Regions from separate parts of the Homo sapiens genome. Here regions 1 and 2 are each linked to region 3. The links come from fine-mapping of genetic effects on gene expression. A gene starts in region 3. Each other region holds a variant in brackets. All regions are shown on one strand. Distances are from middle to middle. Region 1 overlaps RSBN1 (round spermatid basic protein 1). Region 2 overlaps RSBN1 (round spermatid basic protein 1). Region 3 holds the start of RSBN1 (round spermatid basic protein 1).

Evidence for each region. PIP is the estimated chance that this variant, and not a neighbour inherited with it, causes the effect.
Region 1: its variant is fine-mapped to the expression of RSBN1 in whole blood (TOPMed, PIP 0.90).
Region 2: its variant is fine-mapped to the expression of RSBN1 in whole blood (INTERVAL, PIP above 0.99).

Annotation. Positions count from the first base shown.
Region 1 is chr1:113,774,476-113,777,239 of GRCh38, reverse strand. RSBN1 (round spermatid basic protein 1) reads left to right here. Exons shown (of 7, transcript NM_018364.5): 4 at 1-30. Among named protein-coding and RNA genes, the nearest start is that of PHTF1, 16 kb to the right of the region's middle. The variant G/A (reference allele first, on the strand shown) is at 1,258.
Region 2 is chr1:113,779,230-113,781,993 of GRCh38, reverse strand. All of the region lies in intron 2 of RSBN1 (round spermatid basic protein 1), which reads left to right. Among named protein-coding and RNA genes, the nearest start is that of PHTF1, 21 kb to the right of the region's middle. RefSeq lists a silencer at 1,014-1,123 and an enhancer at 1,234-1,283. The variant A/C (reference allele first, on the strand shown) is at 1,101.
Region 3 is chr1:113,811,266-113,814,029 of GRCh38, reverse strand. RSBN1 (round spermatid basic protein 1) reads left to right here and starts at 1,554. Exons shown (of 7, transcript NM_018364.5): 1 at 1,554-2,320. The coding sequence starts at 1,618. PTPN22 (protein tyrosine phosphatase non-receptor type 22) reads left to right here. Exons shown (of 21, transcript NM_015967.8): 21 at 1-219. AP4B1-AS1 (AP4B1 antisense RNA 1) reads right to left here and starts at 1,418. Exons shown (of 5, transcript NR_125965.1): 1 at 1,205-1,418. RefSeq lists enhancers at 1,154-1,683, 1,420-1,809, 1,684-2,213, 2,190-2,279, 2,430-2,489 and 1 more.

The sequences.
Region 1 (2,764 bases), 37 kb after region 3:
TATGCCAAAGTCACCCTTCAAAAGACGACGGTAAATATTTCTTTTTCTCAAATAAGCAAAACTACTTTTTTTTAGTTGGTTGCTTATAAAAATGAGCACAGTTTGAAAACCATTTGTCTTGGGCTCCCTTAAGTAAATGTTTTAGTTGTCGGTTCCTCTTTTCAGTCCAATCATCACAGTTATCACAGTGAGGCATTTTTCTAAAACACAAATTTAATTTTTACTTATTTTTTAAAAACCTGTGCCCTAACTGCCTGCAGGATAAAAGATCAAACCCCTTAGTGTGGTTTACATTAATAATCAGGTCAACTGTACCTCTTCTAGATGTATCTGTGTTTAGTCTTCTCCGGCCATACCGAATTCACTTTCCAAACCATAGTCTATCATAACTCTTTGCTTTTGCACTATTTTTTTTTTTTTTTTTTTTTTGAGATAGGGTCTCACTCTGTTGCCCAGAGCTAGAGTGCAGTGGTACAATCATAGCTCACTGTATTCTTGAACTTCTGGTCTCAGGAGAGCCTCCCAAGTAACTGTGGCTATAGGTGTGTACCACCATGCCCATCTGATTAAAAAAATTGTTTTGTGTATTTTATTTTTGTAGAGATGGGGTCTCACCATATTGCCCAGGTTGGCTTTGAACTCCTGGCCTCAAATGATCCTCCTGCCTCAGCCTCCCAAAGTGCTGGGGTTACCGTCCCACAGCAAACTTAATACATTTTCAAAACTTAGCTTGAGCTGGGCACAGTGGCATATGCCTTTAGTCCTAGCTACCTGGTAGGCTGAAGTAGGAGGATCAGTTGAGCCCAGGACTCCACGACAAGATCCTGACTCAAACCCAAACCAAAACCAAACAAAACTTAACTTGGACGTCACCTCCTTTGTGAAGTTTTTCTTTCCTTCCTTAGGTAATTAATTGTTCCCTACAATGTTCTGTTCATTAAAGTTTTGTTTACATGTTTTTATTTTCTACTAACATTTGAGGTGTGCTTTGGGAAGACAGGGACTATTTTATTCATCTTTGTCCTCATGACATATACTAGGTAACCAGTATTTGCTACATGAAACCAATAATGTTCTATAGGACCGAGCCTCAGTAATTCATATTGTGCTAACATGTTTTGTGTTTCAGACTTTGAAGACAAATGTAGATTAACTCACTCTCTAGTACTTTGAAAAATCTAATTTAATGAGACTGAAAATGATCTATACCTGCTTAGACTACGAAAATAGCAATTCAAAATAAGTGCCCAGAAGTGA[G/A]TTTTAATGGACTAATCTAAACCTTAACTTAAGGCTCATAGGAGAATGATACTTGAGCTAAGTATGGAATAATCTTAGGTACTTGAAATGTATGAAAATACTTTGAAAACATTATGTACGATGCAGGGTGGTGGCATGGTAAAAACCCAGGAGTCATTTGAAAGTTCTGCACATTGCTAGATTATAGCAGTTTTTGTTGCAGGATGATGACGAATCTTGAAATCTTATTAAATTGTTAAATACTATATACATTTTTTGTTCTGTAATCTTTCCTCAAAAAATGACCATCATTTGTTTCCTGATTTTTATAAACTTAAGAAAAAAGTAATAGGAAAGAGTAAAAAGAGGGCAGGTGCAGTGGCTCACACCTGTAATCCCAGAACTTTGGGAGGCTGAGGCAGGCAGATTGCTTGAGTCCAGGAGTTCAAGACCAGCCTGGGCAACATGACAAAACCCTGTCTCTAGTAAAAATACAAAAATTAGTGTGGTGGCACGCTCCTGTAATCCTAGTTACTGAGGTGGTTGAGGCATGAGAATCGCTTGAACTCAGGAGGCCGAGGTCGCAGTGAGCTGAGATGGTGCTTCTGCACTCCAGCCTGGACGACAGAGTAAGACTCATCTCAAAAAGAAAAAAAAAAAGAAGAGTAGAAAGAAGGCAGGCTGGGCATGGTGGCTCACACCTGTAATCCCAGCACTTTGGGAGGCCAAGGCAGGCGGATCACCTGAGGTCAGGAGTTCGAGACCATCCTGGTCAACATGGTGAAACCCCATCTCTACTAAAAATACAAAAATTAGCTGGGCATGGTGGCAGCCGCCTGTTATCCCAGCTACTCGGGAGGCTGAGGCAGGAGAATTGCTTGAACCTGGGAGGCGAAGGTTGCAGTGAGCCGAGATTGTGCCACTCCACTCAAGCCTGGGGGACAAGAGCAAGACTTCATCTCCAAAAAAAAAAAAAAGGTAGCCACCATTTAGGCATATTAACCTTTCAAATTATATATAGCCATAAATAATCTTTTTACAAAATCCATTCTTTGTGTGATGTTTACTTTAAAACTTGGGAATTTTTACTGTATGGTTGTATCAAGATTTATTTAACCAATTCTTGGTTTTTGTTTTTGTTTTTTCTTTGAGACAGGGTCTTACTCTGTCACCTAGGCTGGAGTGCAGTGGCATGATCAGGGCTCACTGTAGCCCATCTCCCAGGCTCAAGTGATCCTCCCACCTCAGCCCCACCAAGTATCTGGGACTACAGGTGCCTGCCACCATGCCTGGCTAGTTGTTTTTTGTTGTTGTTGTTGTTGTTTTTGAGACAGAGTCTTGCTCTGTCACCCAGGCTGGAGTGCGGTGGTGCGATCTCGGCTCACTGCAAGCCCCTCCTCCCGGGTTCACACCATTCTCCTGCTTCAGCCTCCCAAGTAGCTGGGACTACAGCCTCCCGCTATGATGCCCGGCTAATTTTTTTTTTTATTTTTAGTAGAGATGGGGTTTCAACGTGTTAGCCAGGATG
Region 2 (2,764 bases), 32 kb after region 3:
AAGGATTTAAAATGGGAAGGTTGAATGATAAGATGTTTTTTCCTAGATTATTTGTAGCAGTATGTAGGATGGCTCTTGGGGATAGGAATCCTGAAGCAAGGATACTGGTTAAGAGGTTTTACAATTAGGTGAGAAATGATAATTTCCTGAATTAAGGCAGTGGTACTGCAGATTTAGTTAGAAGGATAGATTTTGATTTAAGTGATGAGGAAGAGGGATTTATCAATTCCTGATTTAGGACCTGAGAAAATGAATATTATTAACCGGCGAAGTACATACAGAAGGAGAAAAAGAAGGTTTGGGAGGGGAAGGGAACCTTACAAAAAAACGAGCTCTGTTTTGTAGGTATTAAATTTGAGGGTGTCTGTGGGCTGCCCAGGAGGCATTTGTATGTTAAGATCTGAATCTGAGGCAGAGTTTTAAGTTAGAGATGTAGATATGGAATGTAGTAGGGTACAGGTGGTAGTTAAATCTGTAGTATAATTGAAACCACCCACAGATAATATGTGGAATGAAAACTGGGCCAACTCTGCAACAACCACGTTTTGGAGAGGAGGAAGCCTGGAAAGGGAAATCAAGAAAGCAGGTGATTGCAAAGCATTCCTTGAATTTGGTTGTGAAGAGGTCATCAGTGATTTGTTTCAGGGGAGTGGTATGGGCAGAAGCCTGATTGCAATGATATGAGATGTGAATAAAAGGTGAGGTGAGGCAATAGAGACAGGTACTACAGACTAGTATTACAGAAGTAGGATTCTTATGTGAAAAAGGTATATATATCTTGGTGCTTTTGATGGCAAGTTGCAGGATAGTCAATTTTAAAATGGGCTTAAATGATGAAAGAGATTTATTGGCCTATGGAATGGAAAAGTCCAGAGGTGGGATGGATAGTTTGAATGTTTCAGGCCTGGGGTTTGCAGGCAGGGCTGGTGGAAGGACTGGGATAGAGGATGAGAGTGTGTTTATGAGAGAGGGATAAACCTTGAGGTTTAGACTAGATATGGAAGCAGCTGAAAGAAGGAGGGGACTGATACTGAGAAAAAAACGTAGGTCACAGAAAGCTAGAGGTCTAATTTCATGTAAGTAAAGGAATGAAAACAGGA[A/C]GGTTGTGGTTTACTAATAAGGGCTTTCTCTAGCTAGGCTAAGTTAGCTACAGTTATCCAAATAGGCTTTATACATTGCAGCTTTCAAAATCCAGTCCTAGTATTTTGTAGCATAGTTGTTTACTTGATGGCTCTTCTGCCAGGAAATAAAAATTGAACATTGTTAATTCTTTGTCACTCATGGATACAACATTGGTACTCACACAAAGGTGTGAACCTGAAGATCCTCGTAAGATGAGAAGCTTTTCTTTGTGTATATATGAAAATAAACATGTTGGTCTTGGCGAAATTATGAGGTCGCTATATTTTGTGGTCATACCCTTTCTTTGTCTTCTGTTGCTCCCGCCTTCCTCTTTTTTAGGTTTACTTTTTATTCTCTTTGCAAATAGGAAAAGATGCTTCATATTTATTCATGTCACATGTTGATTATTCTAGGTGTTTACCTTTCTAAGTTGTCTTCAAGTTCAGTGCTGTTGAGTTTAGTGGTGTTTGAATTAGGTAAACTTGGAGTGGTGTGATATAAGAATATTAATTCAGTCTCACTTTGTGTGTAAAATTTAAAGTAGTATGAATTCCTTCAAATTAATAATGCATTGAGTTGTATAATCTCAGGCCAAGTAAATTGAAAACTGCCACATGGCAGTGTACTTCTTTAGGATTGGTCTTGAGTTTTGGCTGCTTTAAATTAGGATAGGTCTTAAGAGTCACTTCTGGCTGGGAAAAAGATTTTAAAAAGATCATGATAGGTCTTTAGGACATTTGTCCCATAAAATGCCTGTATAGAGAGAAAGCCTTTCTTAGTAAAGGAATTTCTGAGACTGGGAATAGTTGGGAGAGGTGTTTGGGGGAGACTGATATTTCTTTTTTTTTTTTTGAGACGGAGTCTTGCCCTGTCGCCCAGGCTGGAGTGCAGTGGCACGATCTTGGCTCACTGCAAACTCCGCCTCCCATGTTCAAGCAGTTCTCTGCCTCAGCCTCCCGAGTATCTGGGACTACAGGCATGCACCACCGTGCCTGGCTAATTTTTGTATTTTTAGTAGAGACGGGATTTCACCATCTCGGCCAGGCTGGTCTTGAGCTCCTGACATCATGATACACCTGCTTTGGCCTCCCAAAGTGCTGGGATTACAGGCATGCACCACCGTGCCTGGCCGAGACTGATAATTTCTTATTACCCCTAAAAGCATATGATTCCTAGAAATGTTGCTGAAGGTTAAATCTACTTTAGTTGTTTTAGAGTGCTTAGAAAGGTTAGAATAATGATTTAAAAAGACTTACCTTTCTTCCCCTTCCTTATCTCTATATCCCATGATGAGCCTTTGTTCCATGCTGCCACCCCTGGCTTTTTATGGCATGATGATCATACCAAACTTATGGAAAGTAATTCATATGAATATATATAAAGTAATTCTGGCCTGGGTGGCTGCTGCTTAAGAATCATCTAAAGTGATCTTGGGGGGAGGATTTGTAAGGAATTAAAAAATCCCTACCCCTGCTATTTGAGAACAAGATCTACAGCCTTTTTTTCTGTGTATATATGTGTGGGTGATGTTAAATTGTCTATGGAAAAAAATTGATTCTAAAAATGCTGCTAAAGAACAAATGGTGAAGAATTGTGGTAAGATATCCTAGATGGTCATTTATGTAGACTGTTTCCTATTAAG
Region 3 (2,764 bases):
GAATCCACCTGACTTCCCCTAATGCATTAAAAATATTTTTATTTAAATAACTTTATTTATAACTTTTAGAAACATGTAGTATTGTTTAAACATCATTTGTTCTTCAGTATTTTTCATTTGGAAGTCCAATAGGGCAAATTGAATGAAGTATTATTATCTGTCTCTTGTAGTACAATGTATCCAACAGACACTCAATAAACTTTTTGGTTGTTAAACTGACTTCATTGCAGTAGTGTTTAGGTAATACTTCTCCAGAAACTAGTGAAATCAAACCACAGTAATTTTATCTGCTGAGTATATATCATTGTAATCAATTACTTCCAAATGTCTTTATCAATAAACAAATATACTAAAAGAATTCTAGGTAACCATGAGTTACTTAGGGCACCATGAGTGCATCTGTAGACCCAGCTACTCATTCCTTGAGCCCAGGAGTTGGAGGCCAGCCTGGTCAACAGAGCGAGACCTTGTCTCTTTTTTTTAAGAGTCAGGGTCTAGATCTGTCACCCAGGCCAGAGTGCAGTGGTGCGACCACTCCTCCCACCTTAGCCTCACGAGTACCTGGGACTACAGGCGCGTGTCACGACACCCAGATAATTTAAAAAATACTTTTGTAGGGACAGAGGCTCACTATGTTACCAACGCTGATCTGGAACTCCTGGCCTCATGCAATCCTCCCGCCTCGGCCTCCCAAAGCTCTGGGATTACCGGCCTGAGACACCGAGCCCCGCCCCGCCCGTCTCTAAATAAATACTTAAAAGAACCCCAGGTAAAAGCTAAAGCGAGGATGAAATTCTAAATGAATTTCTGAGCAACAACTATCCGTAGTGAGCAGTGATGATTTTTGGTGTGTTCTCCGGTAGGCACACTTTTCAAATTTATGCAATCTTATCCTTAAGATTTGAAAAAAAAAAACTTATAAAAAATCTTAAACGTGGTTTTCCATCTACAATTTTTCGCAACTGTAGGGATATATTCAAAATAAATGCTGGACATTTCCAGGCATTAGAGGGGATGTGGCCGGATGGCGAGGAGGGGCCGTCCTCACCAGGACTCCAAGCAGTTCTCGCACCTGACTTCGTAGGCCTGTAGTTGTAACCATAGCAATGCCCCAGATGCTTGAAAACATTTCTGAATTGCGGCCCTATCATATTTTTACAGCAAAACCACCCTTATTTTACATATTACTAAATCCTCTTTTCACCTTCATTTCATCCCTCGTCAAAGTTAAAAGGATGAAGATTCTTTTATCTCACAAAGGTTATGAGAGAAATATTAAATTTAAAATCACTGTGGAGACCACCTCCTCCGTGTAAAATGAGGAAGGGTCACAGGAAGATGATAATGGGAACGCGCCGCCAGACTCTGAAAGCCATTAACATTGTTTCGGCCGTTAGGGCGGTTGGCGGCAACTCACCGCCCAGCGGCGGTTGCGTCGCAGCCAGAAGCGTGACTTCGCGCACGCTCCCTTTCCACTCCTCCACTCAGAGCCGGGGACGCGGCGGGGGCGCGGCGGAACTACAGCTCCCATGACGCTTTGCGCGGCATAGGGTGCTTTACAATAGAAGCTCGGTTGGAGAGGCCTGCGGAGAAAAGCTGGGAACGGCCGCTTCCGGCATGTTCATCTCTGGACGAAGAACGGCCGACAAGTGGAGGGCGGAGGAGAGACTCCAATGCCCAGCGGGCAGTGCGCGGGCGGCGCTTGCGCGATGCGCGGACGGGGGGGCGGTCGGGCCATTTAAATGTGTGTTTGTGGGTGAAATGGCTGCGCAGGTCGGAGCGGTGCGCGTAGTACGGGCGGTGGCGGCGCAGGAGGAGCCGGACAAAGAGGGGAAGGAGAAACCTCATGCTGGGGTCTCCCCGCGGGGAGTTAAACGGCAGCGCCGATCTAGCAGTGGGGGGTCTCAGGAGAAGCGGGGGCGGCCGAGCCAGGAGCCCCCTCTCGCTCCCCCTCACCGGCGGCGTCGCAGCCGCCAACATCCTGGGCCGCTGCCGCCAACGAATGCAGCCCCAACTGTCCCAGGCCCTGTTGAGCCTCTTCTCCTGCCGCCTCCGCCGCCACCTTCGCTGGCACCCGCCGGGCCCGCTGTCGCTGCCCCTCTCCCGGCCCCAAGCACCTCGGCCCTCTTCACCTTCTCGCCTCTGACGGTGAGCGCGGCCGGGCCCAAGCATAAGGGCCACAAGGAGCGGCACAAGCACCATCACCACCGCGGCCCCGATGGTGATCCCAGCTCCTGCGGAACCGATCTCAAGCACAAGGACAAGCAGGAAAACGGCGAGAGGACTGGAGGGGTGCCTCTGATCAAAGCCCCCAAGAGAGGTGAGAGCAGGCAAACTGCCCGGCTTGGGTTCTAGGTCTCTCTCAGTTCCGATATCCCGCATCTTTAGGACTGAAAGACGCCAAACCCCTGCTTACCTTCTGCTGCTGTACTTCTCTAAGCTCACTGGGGTGGACCCTGGATTTCAGATCGTTGACACGGTTTGATCTAACTACTTGAGGCTTCTCGCTCCGAGGCCGAGCTGTCAGTTGCTAATCCCTTTACCGGTCCCCCGGAGCCTCTCAGCATTTGTTTTCAAATTCTGCAAGGTTTCCGCGCCGCGTTAGATTAGTAGGTGGGGTACTAAAAAATGCCTTTCCAAAGAAAAGGCATGTTCCTAAAATCCCTTCTCCTTGTTTTGCTTGCTGGAGAGCTTTAGTTATCTGCTCTCCCTTGCTCCAGAATAGTCAGGGGTATGGTTCCAGTCTTTCAGGAGGGAATTCATA